Linked DNA regions of Homo sapiens. The protein of the gene in region 1 purifies or fractionates together with the protein of each later gene. This does not show direct contact. Each region holds a gene or a part of one and is shown on either strand. Other genes may lie near its edges.

Region 1 (10,973 bases):
AAATCTGTGTACAGCTAGCTGATTTACTCCAAAAGTAACACTGGTATAAAACTCCTATATAGGTCAAGAAAAAGAACACTGCCCAGAACCTAGACCCTTTGCACCTGTCCCAAAATCACTCCCATTGCCTCACCACAAAAAGTAACCACTATCCAGACTTTCAGGAAAATCATTTCTTTGCTTTTTATTTTAACAGTTCTACTACCTAAACATGAATCCTTCAACACTGTGGTTTAGTTTTGCATATATTTTTTTTTAATTAAAAAAATTGTTTTTCTTTTGAGAAAGGGTCTTACTCTGTTGCCCAGGCTGCAGTGCAGTGGCGTGATCACAACCTACTGCAGCCTCAACATCCTGGGCTCAGGTGATGCTCCCACTTCAGCCTCCCAAGTAGCTGGGACTAAGGCATGCACCACCACGCCTGGCCAATTTTTTGTAGAGACGGAGTTTCTCCATGTTGCCCAGGCTGGTCTTGAACTCCTGGGCTCAGGCAATCCTCTCACCTCCTCCTCCCAAAGGATTACAGGCGTGAGCCACTGTGCCTGGACAGTTTTGCATATTTTTAATCTTTACTTGAATGGGATAACAAAGTAAATTTGTGAGAGTATATATCTGTTTCTGGCTTCTTTTACTCAACATCATACGTGTGAGGCTTATTCATGCGGATATCTTTTTTGGGGATCACTTTTGTTATACACATAAACATGCCTTTTTTTTCCCTGAACCATCTAAAAGTAAGGTGAAGATGTTATTTAACATATACTTCCTAAGAGTATCCTTTCTGATACAACTACATCATCAGATCCCAGAAATTTAACATTGGTGTAATACAATAACACAAATTTTCCTAACTATCCAAAAATATATCTACTTCAGCTGCAGTCTTCTTTGTTTTCATCCAGGACCCAATTAAGTATCATGTATTGCATTTAATTGTCCTGTGTCTTTCATCTCATTTAATCTGTTAAACAGTCCACTATAGTTTTTCTTTCATGACATTGGCTTTTTTTTTTTTTTAAAGAGTCCAGGCCAGCTGTCTCAAAGAATGTCCCACAATCTGGACTTGTCTAATAGTTTCCTCAGCATTGGATTCAGGCCAATCCTAGGTGATGCTGTGTCCTTTCAGCTCATCAATTCAAGAAATATAGATGGTCTGCTGCTAGACCATATTATTGTTGCTAGATTGTTGTTAGTAGTTCTCAATTTCCTCACCTGCTCTTGGCAGTAAAATCTGTGCTACATACACTCTGAGAGGAGAGAAGTGGCAGAGGTTTTTGGAAGGAAGGGAAAGTTTGATGGGAGCACTTTAGGAGGCTGAGGTGGGCAGACTGCTTGAGACCAGGATTCAAGACCAGCCTGGCAATGTGGCGAAACCCATATCTATAAAAAATACAAAAAAATTAGCTGGGTATGGTGGCACATGCCTGTGGTTGCAGCTACTAGGGAGGCTGAGGTGGGAGGATCACCTGAGCCCAGGGAAGTCATGGCTGCAGTAGGCTGTGATCACGCCACTGCACTCCAGCCTGGGCAACATGAGTGAGACCCTGTCTCAGAAAAAGAAAAAAAAGAAAGCAGTGTGTAAACTGGCATGTGCTTGACTTTTGTTACTCAAAATAGTGTTTGGCTTAAAAAGTAATATATGTACACAGCACAAAATTTAAATGGGGTCTACAATGAAAACCAAATCTCCCCTCTACTCAAATCAAGCAAAACTAGCCAGTTACTTTTAACAAACTTACAAGTTAACTATAGGGGGGAAAACTCCCTCATTTAGATGAGATGCAGAACTGATCAGTTTGACTTTAGGTGGAAATAGCTGATCATTTCAAGTAAACAATCCCCTTCAAATCCTCTTCATCCTATTAATTAATAGCCTTTAAAAATAACTGCTAGCCTCTTCCCAAAAACAAAATAAAAGAAAGAAAATCACACATAGTACACAGAGATTAAATCTAGCCTGGTCCTTGTCTGTAAATCCAAATTTGGAACATTTTACTGAATGCAGTTTACTTTGGCCCTTTATGTTTGTGAGTTATAACAGTGACTGATGAAGGACTGTGAAGATATATAAAAAATGTTACTCCTCAAGAGGGAATGAGGAACTGCCAGGAAGGGCCAAGTAACTGCAGAAGCCACAATGGCCTGGAAGAAAAGTCCATCATCGGGAATCCACTCAGGGCCAGCACCATCAGCTCTGCCCTTCATGCTCCTCGCCCCTAGACAACTTGTGGCTAAAGCAGTAGACTGGAAAAGGAAACTGATAAAGGCAGGCAAGAAAATCCACTTCCTTTGTTTCTCCTTAGTGTGGTGCAGTGGTTCTAAATCCTAGTTGCACAGAAAAACTGAGCTTTTTATAAAAAGTGAATGCCAGGGTTCCATTCCAAACCAAATAAATCAGAATGGGAATGGAGGCCCAAGTGTTGATATTTGTTTTTAAACTCCCCCAGGTGCCTCTATATTGCAGCCGGGACTGGGAACCAGGAGTGCAGGATAGTGGCTCACAAACTTAAGTGTTCATCAAAATCACCTGGACAGCTTGTTAAACAATATCACTGGGCCTCACCCCTAGAGCTTCTCATTTGGTTGATCCTAACAAGTTCCATGATCCTGACGCTGCTGGAACCACGCTTTGAGAACGACTGGTGTAGGGGAAATGACATGGCTTTGGAATTGAACAGATTTCCGTTTTTTTTTGTTTTTTTTTTTTAATGGGACAGAGTCTTACTCTGTCTCCCAGACTGGAGCGCAGTGGTGTGATCTCGGCTCACTGCAACCTCTGCCTCGTGGGTTCAAGTGATTCTCCTGCCTCAGCCTCCAGAGTAGCTGGGACTACAGGCGCGCGCCACCACACCCGGCTAATTGTTTTGTATTTTTAGTAGAGACAGGGTTTCACCATGTTGGTCAAGCTGGTCTCAAACTCCTGACCTCAGGCAATCCGCCCACCTCAGCCTCCCTAAGTGCTGAGATTACAGGCATGAGCCACCGCGCGCAGCCTCAGTTCTGAGCTCTGTTGTCATCTAGAGGTATAACCCTGAGTGAATAACCTCTCTGAGCCTCAATTTCCTCATCTGCAATGTTCCTATGAGGATTAAGATAATGTATGCAAAGCAATAAGCACAATGGTAGGCACATCTAGGAGTTTGACACATGGCAGGGCCCTCCCCACTCCCTGGACACACACAGACCCACAGAGATTGGGGCCACCAGCAACCCTCCACCAAAGACTGGCCCCCACAGTAATGCTTGCACCTGCCTGTCTCATGTCAGCTCTGCCACTGGACTCACCTGCTATGATGGAAAGACTTCAGCTTTGGCTGCAGCAGCACAAACAGCACCACGAGGAGGAGAATGAGCGCCACGGAGCTGGCAGTAGAAGCCACTATAGACAGCGTGGGGACCCCAAGTGATGTGTGGGTGTCTTTATCTATAAAAACAAGCCATCATCAGAAGGGTTTTGTACCCAAATACACAAAACAGCTGATGGGCCCCACAGCTGATCTTGTCAAATGCCTCCTGAATGGTGCAATACAGACATCCTACGGTCAGGGTCATTTCAGGAATAACAGCTTAGAATGACCTATGTATACACAGTTCTTTTGGAAAAGGACCATTTCCCTATCCTGTTTCCTGAATAAAAAATTCCCCTCACTTCCAATCTTTGAGGTCCATCTGACACATAAACTCACTTAACCCTAGAGATTTTACCTTTATAAACCACTTTGATCCCATCCTCAAAAGCTTGAAGTTTGTAAACATCGACAATTTAACTGGGCATGTCATTCCACCATCTTAAGTTCTACCTATGTTCTTCCCAAGTGGCAGGATTAATTTACAGAAACTGGACTGTAATAAAACCTTGTCTTAAGATCCACAGCTTTAATTGTAACTCTCAGGTTGGTTCCCACCCATTTCTGGGGTGTCATGGGTTAAACATGCTCTGGTCTTGAAGCCTGAGTGGGAAGCACAAAGATGGTTATATGACACACTTTCCTGCAAGCAGGTGGATTTTCCTGTCATGCAAGACAGGAGGAAGCAGTAAGGGTGGGAGGTCTTTTGTCCAGCTGGTCTGTAGCTCCATTCAAGGAAAAATGAAATGGACGATACATTAGAGAAGGTATTAGCATTGTGCTCACTGTGAGGGCAGAACATGGTCAAGGGTCACCAACACTTGGCCATGCAAACAAGAGATCCTGAACATCAAACGGGCTTTACAGAGCAGGGCAGATGGCTCAATGAAATGCAATAGGACATGCACCAGCAACCTCAAGTATCTTCCACAAAGACATGAAGACCCAAGGAAGGGAGGCTGCAGAGCATCAACTGGGGCTGGGCTGCACCACAGCAAAGAGTGCTCTGGAGGAAGCATGCTTTGCATCCTGTGAGTTAACAGAAAGCAGAACCCCAGCAGCATCCCTTTTTCATCTGCCAGACTGACCCTCGTTGAGACGGCAGCTAATCTCCATGGCTGGTTTCCACTCGCCATTCTTACACGTCAGGTATTTGTAATCGCCCTTCAACATGTAGCCTTCAGCACACAGGTATTCGATGACACTGCCTGCTGTCAGGGGGTCTCTGCAGGGCCGGGGGTGGCAGATGTAGCCACCATTCTCTGGCTCCGGTGGTAGGGGGCACACTGCAAAGACAGGGAGAGAGCAGGGGTACAGTGGTGAGGTATCCAGTAGGAGTCTGCTCTCAGTGACGCAGCTCTGAAGGCCTCTACAGGAAACACAGGAGGAGGAAATAACCCTTTCCTTGGAGGAACTGTTAACCAAACCCTGGAAACTCAGGTTGCCACTGACAGAGGGGAAGTATACTGGCAACAGGGGAAGTGGCTGCTTGCAACATTTCCCCCTCCCTCCCCACCATGCCTTAAGAGAATTCCATCCATAAATGAACGGCAGACTCTAAAGTCTTGAACCTATAGAGATCTAGACATAATAGTTTTAATAAAGCCTGTATTATGTAATAAAGCCTGTAACACACATAATAAATCACAGTGAAAGGAGGAAAAATGTTGGCCTTGTTTCCACTATCAATGTCAGAAAAGACTCTATTGTATAATAAAAACGTGCACTCTTGGCCTGAGAGGGGATTTCTGATAGATTCCCTGGGAGGCTTCCCAAACCCCCTGTGCATCTTCCATTCTCTGACTATAGTAGTCAATGGCACCACCTGTCTCTATCCCATGATAAATTCCACATTTTCCACTGATATACAGGACTGCCTAGTTTCAAAAGCACCTTCACCTCCCGCCTTATTTGTCCTGACAACTCTGTGAGACAGCTATCGTTACTCTCCTTTGAAGAAGAAGACACTGAGGGCCACAAAAGTTAAGTGACTTTTAGCCAAGCTTACAGCAAGGTAAATGGCAGGCTTGGGGTCACAGTCAAATCTTCTGATTCTAAACCTCTGCTCTTTCCACCAGCAGACATTGCTTCTACCCCATGAGCTGCATGGCCTTTAAGGGGTATGGGTGTCAAGGTTACCTCCCCTTTGCCCTCTTGAAACTGGTCAGTTAGGGAGATGGCAGGCAGTGCCTAGGTATGGTGGGAACCCTGGTAAGTTGCAGTAATGGTAAGTCAGAGGATCTGGAAGGTCTGAGTGGACCTGAGGAGGAAAAGGACAACCTCTGATTCCACTCTGGACTGACACTGCAAAACTGAAGACCCCAGGTGGTGGACTGCCGGGTATTACCAGCCAAAACAGTAAAAGTGGGGGCACTACAGAATCACTGTTTGGAATGTTGGGCTGAGGTAGAATGGCCAGGCAACCATGAATGCAATAAAGACCAAAAGTTTTCCAAAGGAAATTCAATTTTGCTGACAAATAACCTGCCCCCATCCTGAATATCACAAGGACATCTGTATGAGAATAAGAACGGTCGTTTTCTTTTTCTCATTTCCTCTGACAGGCCTGGAGTGACTGAGAGTCACACCACAGTGCCTGACTGTCCAAGATAAGGCAGTTTCTCATCCACGAGAGGGGCAGACCACACCACCCTGCAGCTGTGCCCTCACAGCCTCTCTCACCCATGCCTCTTCTTTCCAATCTACAAATGGCTGTTAAGCAAGCTGACTGCCAGCCAGGTTGGGGAGTGGACACCAAATGGAAAAGAGATGATGGCTCCCTACCCTCAATTTGCTTATCACTTGAGATGGGGAGAAAAGGCACTTTTTCTTTTCTTTTTTTAGGTGATGCCACTAAAAAAAAGATGCCATTTTTAAAAAGCTATTAACAAAACAAAGCTGGGTAGGTGCCACAGGGATCCAGAGAAGTCTGGCAGCTTCTCTGAAACTAGGAGATGAGCTCCAGTAAGCTCCCCCCAAGTCCCCTCTAAGGACCCAACTTGTCCCTATTCTCCTCCACCACCAGAGTCTTGAACAGGAGAAAGAAAAACGCAAACACTCCTTCTGGTGCTCTTTAACTTTGGCCAAGTAGTTCAGAGCGCTGGCCAGCTAGATTTCCAAAGAAACCTCCGCAAACTGCTTTAGCCTTTACACTTTCCCTCTTTTGTTCAGGGCAGCAGGCCTGCCACAGATCTCCCTGACTTACTCCCTGGCTCTCCTTGGACTGTGTCTAATTGGTTCATTTCCGTGGCATAATTAATGCTGAGCACCCCATGGCAGCTCCTGAAAGCAGGCAGGACCCACACACAAGTCCAATGTGCTGGGAAGGACAGTCTCAGGGGAAGAGCTGCTGATTCTAAAGCCACTCCTGCTTTGCTGGGTATCTCTTTCCATAAAACCCACATCTCCACAGAATCTTTGAGCGGGATCCTGGCGGTCACCTAGCACTCATAATAAGTCAAAAAAAAAAAAAAGTGAGGACTGCAAAGAAGTGACTTGTAATTCAGTTTAATTTCAATTCAACTAATACTTACTGATTCTGAGTAGGGGGTCACTGTGCTATGCTCTGAAAAAGGACAAAAATATAAGCACCTCAGGTCCTTCTTGCCAAATAGGGATATGACCATTAAGTGCACACATATATTTAAAAAATCATTCTCTTTATGGCTTCTGGATTAAGGACTCTTTCTCTACTCTGAGTTTATAAACATACTCTCCAGTATTTTCTTGTAATGCTTTAGGGATTAGGTTTTTGTTATCTAAAATACTTTTACAAAACAAAACAAAACAAAAAAAACAGACTCATGGGAAATATACAAGGTATTAAATTCAAAAAGGGTGCACAGTGTCCCGTCACTGGGTTCCTCTTTCCAGAGTCACTGCACCAGTTTCTACCATATTCTTCCAAAGATACTCTATATACAAATTTATTCTAACACATGTCAAATAATGTGATTTGTGCCACAAGAGAGGAAGTTCAAAGCAGGAATAGGGGAGCCTAGGAAAGGATCTCCGAGGAAGTAGCACTTCAGATGGGGCTTCACTTCATCAGGAAGGGAGGTCATAGTTTGAAGTAAATGCACTGAAGTGGGAAAATGTAGGTTAACTTCTGAGAACAGCAAGCAGCCCAGTTTGGCTGGGTTGAGTAATTTTTTAAAAGTCCAAAAAAATAACATGAAGAGTGATGAAACCATCTTGTAGAGGACCTTCCTTACAAAAGGAGATATTTATAATTATAGTCAAAGAAAAGGGGGAGCCGCTGAAGGTTCTTGAGAAGGGTAGCATTATAAGAAAAGCAAATTTATAATTTGATATAAGATGGACTAGAGGTAGGAGAGACCCCTTAGATTATGTCAACATTATAGCAATCCTAGTATTGATACAGGAGCTAGAAAGAAATTATTTAGGCAGATAGTGACGGCAAAAGAGTCCTCAGCAAGGTTTCCCTTTTAAGGAAAAGCAGCCTCAAAATCATTTCTTTTCTAACAAAGAGCAGCCTGAAAAATCGAGCTGCATAGATAAGCAAGCTGGAAGCTTGCACAGGTGAATGCCAGCAGCTGTGCCAATAGAAAAGGGCCACCTGGAAGCCAGGTGTGTTCAGAGTGGAGGCTCCATGTTCCCTTTTCTTTGTCACCACGTGTACAGTAAGGACCAGGCAACATGGTGCCCACCAGGTAGAGAACCCATCTGCATAATAAAAGATTAGGGTGGGACGGCCAGCTATTTCACAACTATGCAAATGGCACACATGGTCCAACCAATCTTTCGTCCCCTATGTAAATGGTCTCCTCAAGCTCATCTATAAAACCTTCTTCATTTAACTGCAGAAGTGCAACCCATTTTCTCTGGGACCCCTCTCTGTGCAGAGAGCTCTTCTCTTTCGCCTATTAAACTTCCACTCTTAACCTCACTCTGGTGTGTCTGCATCCTAATTTTCCATGGCTGTGGGACAATGAACCTCAGATATTACCCCAGACAACAACACCGCTTCAGTATGGCAAAATAAACTCAGTACAAAAATTATTTTATGCCCATCTATGAAGGTCATAGAAAAGAAAAAAGCTGAAGTATGTCATAAGATGCTCCAGGTTCAAAGAAGAAATAAGGATGCCTAAGAAGAAAGGGTCCAAAAAAAAAAAAAAGGCAAGTCATTTTAAGACACTAAGAACATGTGAAAAGGCTGGGTACAGTGGCTCACGCCTACAATCCCAGCGCTTTGGGAGGTCAAGGTGGGCGGATCACTTGAGGTCAGGAGTTCGAGACCAGCGTGGTCAACACGGTGAATCCCCATCTCTACTACAAATACAAAAATTAGCCAGGTGTGGTGATGCACACCTCTAGACCCAGCTACTCAGGAGGCTGAGGCACAAGAATTGCTTGAACCCATGAGGCAGAGGTTGCAGTGAGCTGAGATTGCACCACTGCACTCCAGCCTGGGCGACAAAGTGAGACTCTGTTTAAAAAAAGAAAAGAAAAGAAAAGAAAAAGAACACATGAAAAAATATGATCCTCTTGACCAAGAGCAGAGTCCTGGCCAACAGCAGGTGTTGAAGAGGACCCTCTCAGTGATGCCTGGGAAGAACACTAAAAAAAGGCAAAACCCACATGGCAAAGAAATTGTTCAGTGGCTTCCAGAAGCCACAGTCTAGGCAAGAAACTGTCTTGATCTGTGCACCAGGATCATTCTCTGACAATTCCAGGTTCGCAGAAGGAAGCTCTGTACTTAACTCTGGGAAGACAATGAACTCACCTGATGTGGCAGTGCCACATAATTTTAAAAAGAAAAGGAGAAAGCCAGACAATTTTACAGGGGGAAAAAAAATCAATGAATTATCTTTAGCTTCCTCTCTGCTTTCCATTCTGTCCCACAGCCACATAGGCTTTCAGTGAGCACAGGGAGTGCACACAGTAGGCATTCAGTCAAAGTCCACCCTGGTAACAATGCAGATGAGACGCAAAATGATCTAGCTGATACTTCCACCACCTCCGTCGCCTCAGCCTGACACCCTCAGCAGAAACTAACTGCTGAGGACCCTCACCAGCCTTTCTAAAGGTTCCCTGGTTTTGTTGGTTTTGCAGGCCAACCTTTCAGAAGGAGGCAAATTAAAACAAAACAAACTTTTACAACATTCCAAAACAAGCAAAGCAAAATAAGCTCCAGGAAAGGCCCCAGGGGTCAAAGCATTCAATTTAACAAACAGAACAAATACTTGAGCTCCTTCAAAACAAGGTGTGGAAAGCAGGGAATATAAAGATCAGTGTGACATGCATGCAGCCTCAAAGGGATTAGGGTTGAGTAGGAGAAGGTTACATTTAAATTATCTATAGTGCATTTTTTGTTTGTTTGTTTGTGATGAGTCTCGCCCTGTCCCCTGTCACCCAGGCTGGAGTGCAGTGGCAATCTCAGCTCACTGCAACCTCTGCCTCATGGGTTCAAGCGATTCTCCTGCCTCAGCCTCCTGAGTAGCTGGGACTACAGGCGTGTGCCACCACACCCGGCTAACTTTTGTATTTTTAGTAGAGACAGGGTTTCACCATGTTGACCAGGCTGGTCTCGAACTCCTGACCTCAAGTGATCTGCCCGCCTCGGCCTCCCAAAGTGTTGGGATTACAGGCGTGAGCCAGCGCATCCAGCCCCTTTACTTTCCTAATCAACTTGCTATCACTTTACTCTATGGACTTCCCTAAATTATTTCTTGTGTGAGATCCAAGAATCCTCTGTTGGGGTCTGGATCTGGACCTCTTTCCGGTAACAGAACCATGCCCCCACTACAAGCCTACAACCTAGAGAAGACAGACATGGTCACAGCCAACTCTACCCTAAACCAATGAAGTAAGTGTTAAATGTGACACAAGCTGCTCAAATATGAGCTTTTCTAATAGCCTGGGGTGTCCTTCTGGCTAGGTGATCATTCATCGGCACCCAGGGAGGGTAAGAGCCTGAGGCAAAGAAGAAAAAGAGTAGAAACTAAGGAGAGGAGGAAGGAATGGATGGAAATCACAAACCTAGCACAAAGCTGTCCAACAGAAATATAACATGGCCACAGATGTAATTTAAAATGTTCTAGTAGCCAATTAGGAAGATAAATGGAAACAGGTGAAATTAATCTTAATATTTTATTTAACCCAACATATGAAAAAATATGTTGACTGATTACATCTCAACATGGAGTCAACATAAAAATTCACTAATGAGATACTTTATATTCTTTTTCTCATAGTAGTCTGTACACTTATATAAGAGGCATCTGAATGACAGCGACTCCATCTTGAATAGGGGCTGAGTAAAATGAGGCTGAGATCTACTGGGCTGCATTCCCAGGAGGTTAGGCATGGCATTCTAAATCATAGGATGAGATAGGAGGTCACAAGATACATGTCACAAAAGACCACACCAATAAAACAGGTTGGGCAGAGAAGTCGACCAAAACCCACCAAAACCAAGATGGTGACGAAAGTGACCTCCGGTGTCCTCACTGCTCATTATATGCTAATTATAATGCAGTAGCATGCTAAAAGACACTCCCCCACCATAGCCATGACAGTTCACAAATGCCACGGCTACATAGGAAGTCACCCTATATGGTCTGAAAAGGGGAGGAACCCTCAGTTCCAGGAATTCCCACC
Region 2 (10,973 bases), on another chromosome or scaffold:
ATACATGTGCCTTGCTGGTGCGCTGCACCCACTAACTCGTCATCTAGCATTAGGTATATCTCCCACTGCCATCCCTCCCCCCTCCACCCACCCCACAACAGTCCCCAGAGTGTGATGTTCCCCTTCCTGTGTCCATGTGTTCTCATTGTTCAATTCCCACCTATGAGTGAGAATATGCGGTGTTTGGTTTTTTGTTCTTGTGATAGTTTACTGAGAATGATGATTTCCAATTTCATCCATGTCCCTACAAAGGACACGAACTCATCATTTTTATGGCTGCATAGTATTCCATGGTGTGTATGTGCCACATTTTCTTAATCCAGTCTATCATTGTTGGACATTTGGGTTGGTTCCAAGTCTTTGCTATTGTGAATAATGCCGCAATAAACATACATGTGCATGTGTCTTTATAGCAGCATGATTTATAGTCCTTTGGTTATATACTGGTACCAAAACAGAGATATAGATCAATGGAACAGAACAGAGCCCTCAGAAATAACGCCGCATATCTACAACTATCTGATCTTTGACAAACCTGACAAAAACAAGAAATGGGGAAAGGATTCTCTATTTAATAAATGGTGCTGGGAAAACTGGCTAGCCATATGTAGAAAGCTGAAACTGGATCCCTTCCTTACACCTTATACAAAAATCAATTCAAGATGGATTAAAGACTTAAACGTTAGACCTAAAACCATAAAAACCCTAGAAGAAAACCTAGGCATTACCATTCAGGACATAGGCATGGGCAAGGACTTCATGTCTAAAACACCAAAAGCAATGGCAACAAAAGCCAAAATTGACAAATGGGATCTAATTAAACTAAAGAGCTTCTGCACAGCAAAAGAAACTACCATCAGAAAGAACAGGCAACCTACAAAATGGGAGAAAATTTTCGCAACCTACTCATCTGACAAAGGGCTAATATCCAGAATCTACAATGAATTCAAACAAATTTACAAGAAAAAAGCAAACAACCCCATCAAAAAGTGGGCAAAGGACATGAACAGACACTTCTCTAAAGAAGACATTTATGCAGCCAAAAAACACATGAAAAAATGCTCACCATCACTGGCCATCAGAGAAATGCAAAGCAAAACCACAATGAGATACCATCTCACACCAGTTAGAATGGCAATCATTAAAAAGTCAGGAAACAACAGGTGCTGGAGAGGATGTGGAGAAATAGGAACACTTTTACACTGTTGGTGGGACTGTAAACTAGTTCAACCATTGTGGAAGTCAGTGTGGCGATTCCTCAGGGATCTAGAACTAGAAATACCATTTGACCCAGTAATGTATCACATATTATTCTCCAAAGATGGCCACAATAATAACTTCTGACTATATGCTCTTCTATAAAGAGACCTTGTCACTTTCCCATACACGGGTGGAGTCTAAGTCCCATCCCCTCAAATTTGCATTGATGAATAGAATATGGTGAAAGCGAGGCTGTGTGACTTCTGAGGCTGGGTCATAAAAGGTGATACAGCTTTTGTCTTGTTCACTGAAACACCTATGCTGGAGCCTTGAGCCACCACATAAGAAATTCAACTACCTTGAGGTCACCATGCTAGGGAGGCCAAATATAGGTAGGTGTTCCAGTTGATAGCCACAGATGAGCTCCCATCTTAGATGTCCAGCCCAGTAGAGTCATCAGATATTGCATCCCCAACAGACATCTGACTGCAACCACGTGAGAGTGCTCTAACATGAGCTGCCTAGCTGAGCGCAATTAACCAAAAGGACCATGAGAGACAATACTAAATTGTTGGTTTAAGCCATTAACTTTTGGGTTGATTTGTTCTGCAGCAATGGTAAATGGAACAGCTTATTTTTAAAAAAGTGCTATGTACATAGTTCAACCACAATTCAAAACTTATTCCCGAGTATGTTTTTTGTGCTAGGAATGTGATAGGTAGGTGCTTCAAATAAATTATATTATTTAATAATCAAACAACTTTTTTGAGTAATATCTTCATTTAGTGAAAAAGGAGATGTAAAATACTTTTTAAAAGCTCTTTTCTGGCCGGGTGTGGTGGCTCATGGCTTTAATCCCAACACTTTGTGAGGCTGAGGTGGGTGGATTGCTTCAGTCCAGGAGTTCAAGACCAGGCCTGGGCAACATGGAGAGACCCTGTCTCTACTAAAAATAAAAAAATGCCAGGCATGGTGATGTACACCTGTGGTCTCAGCTACCTGAGAGGCTGAGACACCTGAACCTAGGGGTGGGAGTGATGGGGGATCGGGGAGGAGGAGGTTGCAATGAGCTGAGATCGAGCCACTGCACTCCAGCCTGGGTAATAAAGCAAGACCATGTCTTAAAAAAAAAAATGCTTTCTTGCATGCAACTACTTCTTGTGTTATGAATGCAATGTGTCATTGATTCTCTTTAAGGATAATAACTTCATTTTATTTCAAGAATATAATATAGCTATCTTCAGAATATTACATTATCTTTATTTAATTAAAGACTTTTTTTCTCTCTCTTCAGAATCTCCCTGTTATGCAGTTCTTCTCCCCCTGGACCATTATTAGGTGATTCTTGGTTGTTGGTTCATATTTTAAATAAGGATCAACAATAGAGGTTCCCACTAAGAATGGTATTGCACCTAGGGGGCATTTTTGGAAATTTGTGAGGCATTATCTATTGTCACAGTGTTTGGGGATATTTTTGGCATTTAGTGAAAGGGTACTAGGAATGCTAAACATCCTATCATTATTGGATACACTGAACGGTCCTGTGCAACAAAGAATTGTTCTGTGTCCTGTATAATGTTTAAATGTCCTACTAGATATTTATGGTGGTAAAAAATCTGTTTGTAATTACTAAAATCTGGAACAAAATTCCATTTTTAGATAAACTCCAAATATTTTTGCATAGTTTTAATATACATTAAATTTCCCAGGCTTGTACCTACTATATAAATTAATGGAAGATTTTACTTTCTTCTCTTCAGAACTTTACCATTGGTCACCATTTTGGACAATCATTTGGACATTACTGATGACAATCTGCTCATGCTATTTAAAATGACAACACAATGTTCCTGTATCAGTCTACATTCATGGTTGCCACATTTGTGGTGATTCTCTGTTTAGGTGCAGGCATCTGATGACTACATTATATATCCTAGTATAGCTGTACTAAAGCATTTATGTTTTGAAATATATATAATTTTATTATAAATCACCTCCCTCTTATTTCTCCTCTACAGTACATTAGCACATTGTTGATTTTTATAAATTATAGGTATAGTTAGGTAAATTATAATTTTCATTGCAGGAAAATAAAGAGTACGTAAGAAGTAGTTAGAAAAAGGGAGTTGAAATTCATAAAGAGACAAAAGTGTCTGGAGAGACACAAAAAGAAAAAGAGGAAAATGTCCAATCATTTAAGTTTTCCCCAAGGATTTCTCTGTCTGTTGGGATGATGGAAGTTACTTAGAGCATTGCCTTACTTCTCTTTCTAGCCCAATGATGACTCTAGGGGTATCTAGTGACAGTTCATGTAGTTCCTTTAGAGAGGTATTTTCCTGGCTCCAGCATAGGAGGATATGCCTGAGCCAGCAGCTCTGAAGACTAGGGAACTGGTTCAGCTATTCCAAGCCATTTAATTAATTACCCTGCTGACTGCCCCAGAGTCTGTTCCCAGTCTTCACTGTCTGTGATCCTGGGGTTTTTTCCATGGTTCTGCTTAACTCATCGTTTCAGCAGTTTTGTCTGTTATATTTGTGTTTTGGGGTCTTTTGCTCAGTTGGACTGTACATTTAATCTTATTCCACCTGTGGGATATTATTATTTAACAACAAGTTCCTCAATGCTGATTCCACTCCTCCAGTTTCCAGTGCTGCTGCGGATTGATTTTTACATTTATTCTGCCATTTCAAAGAAACTTTGGGTGGAAGTGGATGTAAAGGCATATCTTAATTAGAGCTTCATTCTGAGCCTTTACATAAAGGAAATATTCTCCTCCTATGATTGGTACATTAATATTTTTATTGATTAGGTATCAACTTTGCTGTAGGCAAGCCACTATAACGAAATTCAACTGTCTGACTTCAATTTGTTTTGTTAAATAAATTACTTTTAAAAAGTGAAAAAATGCAGAAAACTTACAATCCATATCAAGTAAGGCACGAACAGATTTAACAAGTTCCTTAGATTCAAGCGCCAGCGTTGCTGGGATGCTACGTCCATTCCTTCCCAGTGGTGTGAGGGAAGTCTGAGAAGCTAACACAGCTCTTCTTTCACTATGAAGGCAATAAAATAAAGTTGAACTTACTACACAATAAACAACATCTATCTTTACTAAATCTGAAGTTGTATCAGTTATAGATTTGTACAAAAATATTTATATTTCTGAGGAAATTATTTCATATAACCAAAATTGAAGTAATTCACATAAAACAATATTTCTGTTTTCAATTATTTACGACATAATAAGTAGAAATATTTTAAAATTAGGTTGACTTCATGTATGATAAAGAAGTAATAGAAGGATGACCTGTCTCCTAAATCATTTGTTGGGCTTATTTTGTGAGTGCTTCTCTTTTGCTAACATGATATAATTTTATTTAGTTCTGTATAAATTCAAATTAAGCATATAAACATGAATTTGTTAAAATACATTTATTATTACTTCTAGTAATATTAAATATAAATTCAATATATGTATTTGGCTCCTGAAATTATCTCTTAAATTATTCCATTTTTTGCCTCGAATCAAAAACAGCCTAGAGCATTTGTATCACTTTCAAAAAATGCAAATGTCACCTAAAATGAATGCATTCTGATCTAATTAAAAATTAAATGTTTTCTTCAAAAAATTACACTAAAACTTACTTGAAAAAAAAATTTAAACTGATGACAAAATCATCATTATTTATACTCCATCTTCCTAAGCATAATGATATTAATTCACAAAGGGTAACAAAAGCATCAGTTCTCAAATTCAAATACATAGCCTTTATTCTGTGTTGAATGACCAGGGCCAATATCCATGTAGAGGATATGCTATATTGAAATGACTGCACCAGTTTTTACTAGTGTTTAATTTACTAAGACACCATGAAATGTTGCGTGATGTAGCTATTTAAAGTTGTCTTTTTTTCCATGAAGCAGTTTAAGGCAAGGGCAGGCTCTGGCTTTTAAATAGTCATTTTAACCTTAATTTTTAAAACAAAACTTTTGAATTATTAGTCAAGGTAAAACTAAGACCTTGGAAAGCTGAGGGTGGGTGACACACTTAGCCCATAAAGAAATAAATGTGATTACTGATTATTTTAAGATCCTTACTGAGAGTAATAATCATGAAATTCACAGAGTTTTCTTGTATCATAAGCAGCAAGGAGAGTAAGAAGTTATGTCAGGTTCCTTCATCATAAGAAGTAAAACATTACTTGAGTTTAGAAGTGAATTATAAATATTCTTCTAAATTAAAAAATGCTATGTGGACACCAAAAATATCTTCACTTATTAAGCTGCTGTTTTCACAGTAAAGGGTAGAGTATTTATTTACTTTTTGAGACAGGGCATCACTATGTTATCCAGGCTGGAGGGCAGTGGTATGATCACAGCTCATTGCAGCCTCAATCTCCTAGAGCTCCTGGGCTCCAGCAATCCTCCTGCCTCAACCTCCCAAGTAGCTGGGAATATAGGAATGCACCATCCCATCTGGCTATTTCTTTTTTTTTTTTTTTTTGTAGAGATAGGGTCCCACTGTGTGCCACTATGTTCCTTGTCTCAAACTCCTGGGCTCAAGTGATCCCCCTGCCTCAGCCTCCCAAAATACTGGGATTACAGGTATGCACCATCACACCCAACCTCATTGAGTCTTCCTGTTTCTGCAAGCGTATATTGCTAGAAGTAGAAGATGTATCTAGGACTAGTGGCAGCTATTATGAGAGCAGAAAAAAATTACTTTGGAAATGCATAAACAAGAATCTTTCTTTTGTAAATGTCTTTCATCATGTATCAAAATGACCATAAACTTGTGGTTTGAAATAAATAAATTTGATTAGTATGTTTCCAGCTTCTAGTAAGAAACTTTAAATCCAAAACATATTATGAATAATGAGACAATCGAGGTATATTCTCCAAATATATTTCTTTTATTTATAGCTACTGAAAGATGAAAACGAAAGAAAATGATTGCATGAATATGTTTTCCAAAATTCTGTTTGCCAGAACAACTAACCTGCTGGGTTGAGACACTTTTAGTAGTGAACCTGTGACCAGTAACTTTGATTCATACGCAAGACAATTACAGAATTTTAAGTTAATCTCATCTTTATAGAATTTTTGATAAAGACAGGATAGGTGGTTTCTACCATAATTTTAGATTACAAGGTTACAATGATTGACTAAATACCTCCAGGAATTTCTTTAACAGAGATGGGACACAAAACAATATGTCCTTGCATCTATTTCCATATGATGGCATCCAATGGGAGTTATGTAGCACCTTAGGACTATTTAAGAGATTTTTAGTATTTGAGTCACAATGACCAGATGAAGAATTTAATCACTACCCATATTCTGCAAAAAGCACTTAAATTTTCTTACCTTAAATTTGATAAAGGAGTAGAATTATCAGAAAATACTTCTTGAATAGCCTAGCAACAAACAAGATGGTGAAGGAGATATATCAGTTTGACAGTTTTTAAAAAATATCTTTTCTTCATTAATATTTATAACCTCCTCTGTCCACGGATTAAACTGATGCTTCTATTATGTAGCGGGGGTGCAAACAATTGAACTAACATGCAGTTTTACTCAGAAATATAACAGCTATGAAAACATTTCTTTATAAGGTAAGTAGTTATCAAATAATGTTTATGCATTATCAGGATTTTTGGTAAAGTATTCATTAAAATAGTATATACTTGGAATCCCATCACCTTGTCTCAATTATTTCTCTAAACAATCTATAAAATGTTAGCCAGTCTTTTCATCATGTATGCAGTTCTAAATCTGACCATAAGCCAGCATTGCTGCTTTGAGACTAGAGAATGTTTCACTAGGTACCAAATACAGTAACATTTATCTATATGCCAGTTGCCTATATATTTTTTAAAGATGAATGTAATAGAACAGAAAAACTTACCTCTACAAAATGAAGAAGCTTTTCAGTGGATGCCTCAAAAGTTTTTCGAGCCATTTCTGATTTTCGTAATTGGCAGTCGAGTACCATGATTCTCTTTTTTAAATCCTGAACACTTTCCTGCACAGAGATATCAAAAGGAGCATTTACACATTTCTTCAGTTTTACATTACTGGTCCCTATTTTCAGTTTTTATGAACTAATATTCAATATTACCAAATTATCTTTTTCTCTTACTGTACATATGTTTTGATTTTGGGGGGCATGTAACTAACTGCATATTTAAAAGTTAATTTGCACAGAGATACTGCAAGTTTTATGAGATAAGTTGTATATGAGTTTATTGATTCTTATAGTAAAATACATTTAAATTAGTTTATGGTTTTGTTTTGTTTTGTTTTTGCAATGTGTCTTACCAGATGCTGACAGAAACCTCTACTAATTTAACATAACTAAAAATGCTGGATACACACACACACACACACACACACACACACACACACACACACACGATGTAAGACAAAGCTAGCAAGGAAGTAAAGGAATTCCATGGAGACATGCAACAGCGATGCCAAGTGAGCCCACTGGGGTAAGAGAGCACTGAAGCATTATTTGTTCGGAGGGTATATGCTGATCCCTGGTGGCCTACAGTTTGGGGTTTCAACAGTCACAAATGGAAAACAGAAGAAACTCAATGGGTGAACTGGGAAGAAGTAAACTTCACAGAGGTAAACAGTGTTTTGATGTTGGCTCAGGTGACTTGAGTAAAAAAGTTTCTCCTGAATAATTCCTAACCAAAAGTCCCCATTCACACAGGTTTGGGGCCAGAATTTACATTATCTGTGTGGCCTAAAAAGCCATATGCTGAAATTTTACTTTAAATTGGTCCCAGGCTAGCAGAAGCAAACTCAAAACTCTGGAGAGATATTTCTAAAACTCAGAGCTCAAAGAATTCCCACTTATAATGCATTGATAGAACATGATCTCACAGACACAAACAAAAATCACTAAACATATGAGAAAATAAGCTCTATGAATGAAAGCTAACTGAAGGAAATAAAGTACAGTATCAGATCTATAAAGACAGCAGATATTTAAGTGAGCAGATACAAAATATAAGGCAATTATGTTTAATATGTTTTTAAAAATAAGAGGGAATTGAAAGTATAATACACAAGAAACTATTGAAATAGATCCAGATAACATAAAAAATACATCTCAAAAATAAAAATGTAACATAACTAAATTAGAAACTTTATTTATAGATTTGACATCCAGTTAGATACAATTATAAAGAGAATGGGTGAACTTGACAACAGAGGTAAAGAAACTTCTCATAATGGAACAGAAAGACAAAAATTGAAATACAAATGGGGAGAAAAGGTAAAGAGAAAACAGCCAGAAGAAGCTATAGCACACATCCAATCTGAATTACACAAGAACAAATACAAAGAATGAAAGAGAAATCGCTCAGGATAATAGCTTAGTGATTTCCAGAAATGGCAGAAGACATTGCTCTTCGAATCGGGAAGCTCAATGAATCCCAAATAGTACACACTAAAGTAAGTTCACACATGATTCATCATAGTCAAACTGCTGAACATTGAAGCCAAAGATATCTTAAAATCATATAGAAGGAAACAGATTGCAAACAAATGACAGATTGACAGCTGACATCACAAACACGAAATAAAAACAGTGAAAGATATTAAATGCCAACTTAACATTTTAAATGTAGCAAAAATATATTTCAAGAACAAGAGTTGAATAAAGATGTTCTTCAGACAAATAAAATGGGGAGAGCTTATTATCATCAGATCCTCACTACATGAATTTCTAAAATATGTACTCATGAAGAAAGAAACCAAGTGAGAAGGTCTGAGATGTAAGAATGCTTAACAGAAAATGGTAAAAATGGAGTCTATTAAGCAAATGCTGACCACACAAAACAAATAATCAATGTCTAATTTGTGGTCTTAAAAGTAAAGAAAGAACTAAAATACTGACAAAAATGGAAATTAAGTCAGGAGGGATGACTGGATTTGTGTCCATTTTACCATAGAGTGAAAAGGCAAGCCAGAAATTTGGAAGAAGATTTTTATAACATGTAATTTAACAAAGGATTAGTAACCAGAAGAATCACTATACATCTACATGAAAAAGACAACTAATCCACTGAAAAAGGGTCAAAAGATATGAAGAAGCATTTCACAGAGAAACACAAATGCCTAATAAAGAGATAAATATATGCTCAACTGGCTACCAGGGAGGAGGAAACCTTGGTTTATAACATTTATGGGTAGAAATAACCCCATTATAGCTGATTTCAAGCTACCAACCTGATATCACTGTACATTGAGTTGAGAAGAGATGCATGCAATCAGCTCTCATGAGCTAGTGTCAGTTGGTCCCAGCACATCACTGTCTCAAAGCCATTAGTAACCAGGGAAATTCAAATTAAACTGTAATGATGTAACACTTATTACAACTACCAGATTAATAAAATTAAAATAAAACAAAGGGTCAGCAAGTATGCGGGGTAAACAATAATTCTTATTCATTACTGGTGGGAGTACAAATTAGTTCAAACACTTTCAAGCACAAGTAGGCATTACCTAGTAAAGCCAAACTTACAATTATTCAACTTAGCAATTCTACTCCTAGCAGGTAACTATTACACATGTGGAGCAGGATACATGCACTAAAATGTTTTTAGCACCATTTATAACAGAAGAGAACAGAAACAATTGGACTGTCCATCAAATGCAGAATGGATAATTACACGTAGTATATCCACACAATAGAGTACAAGAAACAATAAGAAGACACGAACTAGCTAAAAACTTCAAATAGATGAAATGCAAAAACAAAATGTCGAGTGAAGAAAAGCAGGTCAGAATGATACATAGAGTATATTTCTATTTATATAAAGTTGATAAACAGGTAAAACTAAACAACATATTGTTAAGGAATATATACACAAGTAGTAAAGTTTTCAAGAAAATGGTTAAGAATAAATCCAAGAAAGTGATTATCTCTGAGGGAAAGGGTGGGAGATGCAATTGGAGAGAAACACTGTGGGTCTTCAAAGGTACTAGTAATGTTTTATTTCTTATGTTGAAGGTGAATAAAAACTCCAAAAGGTAAATAAATAAATAAATAACATAAAGAAAAAATTATAATGAAAAATAAATGTACTGTTACAAAAAGAATCTGTTATCTTACAAATAGACACTTGAATTTTAATTCTGTAACATCTTGGTCAATGTCTCTTTAAGCAATCTCATGATTAAAAAAAAAAGGTTTCCTTCTTTTTTTCCACTGATATTGGGTTTAGAAAATGTTGAATGTTGAGATGCTCATATTAATAGCTCTTTAAAGAGACTCTTTAAAGACTGTTTTCAGAGACAGGTTACTGGCTTAGAGTCTTGTTAAGAGAAATGGCATGAGAACCCGATTATGATAAAAGAGAGAAAAACTGAATTAATTATATTACCAGGCAACTTAGGACAAAAATGTTTCTCAGTTAAGAGCTGGAAGAGAGATTACAAATAACCCAAGCTTAAAAAAGAAACAAAAAACAAGGAATAATTTCATGTGAACTTTCTTGAAAGTTATATCATTTAAAAATAAAATATTAAACACTCTTGATTTTTCACTTCAAAAGTAACCATAATAAATAGTACTTTTGATATTGTGATAAATCTCAAAATATTTTCATACTCAGGCTAAAGTTACATAACATTATCACATATCTACTTTCAGAATGTAAAAACCAGGTCACAAATAACAAATATGTAATATTCCTAAATATTGCTGATTTGTAAACTATATGTTTTCCTCTTCGCCTTGTGGTATTATCAAAGGG

Evidence for each region.
Region 2: the proteins of SUSD6 (region 1) and STXBP4 purify together in Homo sapiens (affinity purification with mass spectrometry; 3 studies listed by BioGRID and IntAct, with this or other methods). This does not show direct contact.

Annotation. Positions count from the first base shown.
Region 1 is NC_000014.9:69,697,055-69,708,027, reverse strand, and holds part of SUSD6 (sushi domain-containing protein 6 precursor), read right to left. Parts: intron 4,634-10,973; coding exon 4,436-4,633; intron 3,425-4,435; coding exon 3,286-3,424; intron 1-3,285. UniProt on the Homo sapiens protein: May play a role in growth-suppressive activity and cell death. May be involved in the production of chemokine molecules in umbilical vein endothelial cells (HUVECs) cultured in THP1 monocyte LPS-induced medium. Plays a role in preventing tumor onset.
Region 2 is NC_000017.11:55,074,330-55,085,302, reverse strand, and holds part of STXBP4 (syntaxin-binding protein 4), read right to left. Parts: intron 7,226-10,973; coding exon 7,109-7,225; intron 6,618-7,108; coding exon 6,568-6,617; intron 4,254-6,567; coding exon 4,120-4,253; intron 4,114-4,119; exon of another isoform or gene 1-4,113. UniProt on the Homo sapiens protein: Plays a role in the translocation of transport vesicles from the cytoplasm to the plasma membrane. Inhibits the translocation of SLC2A4 from intracellular vesicles to the plasma membrane by STX4A binding and preventing the interaction between STX4A and VAMP2.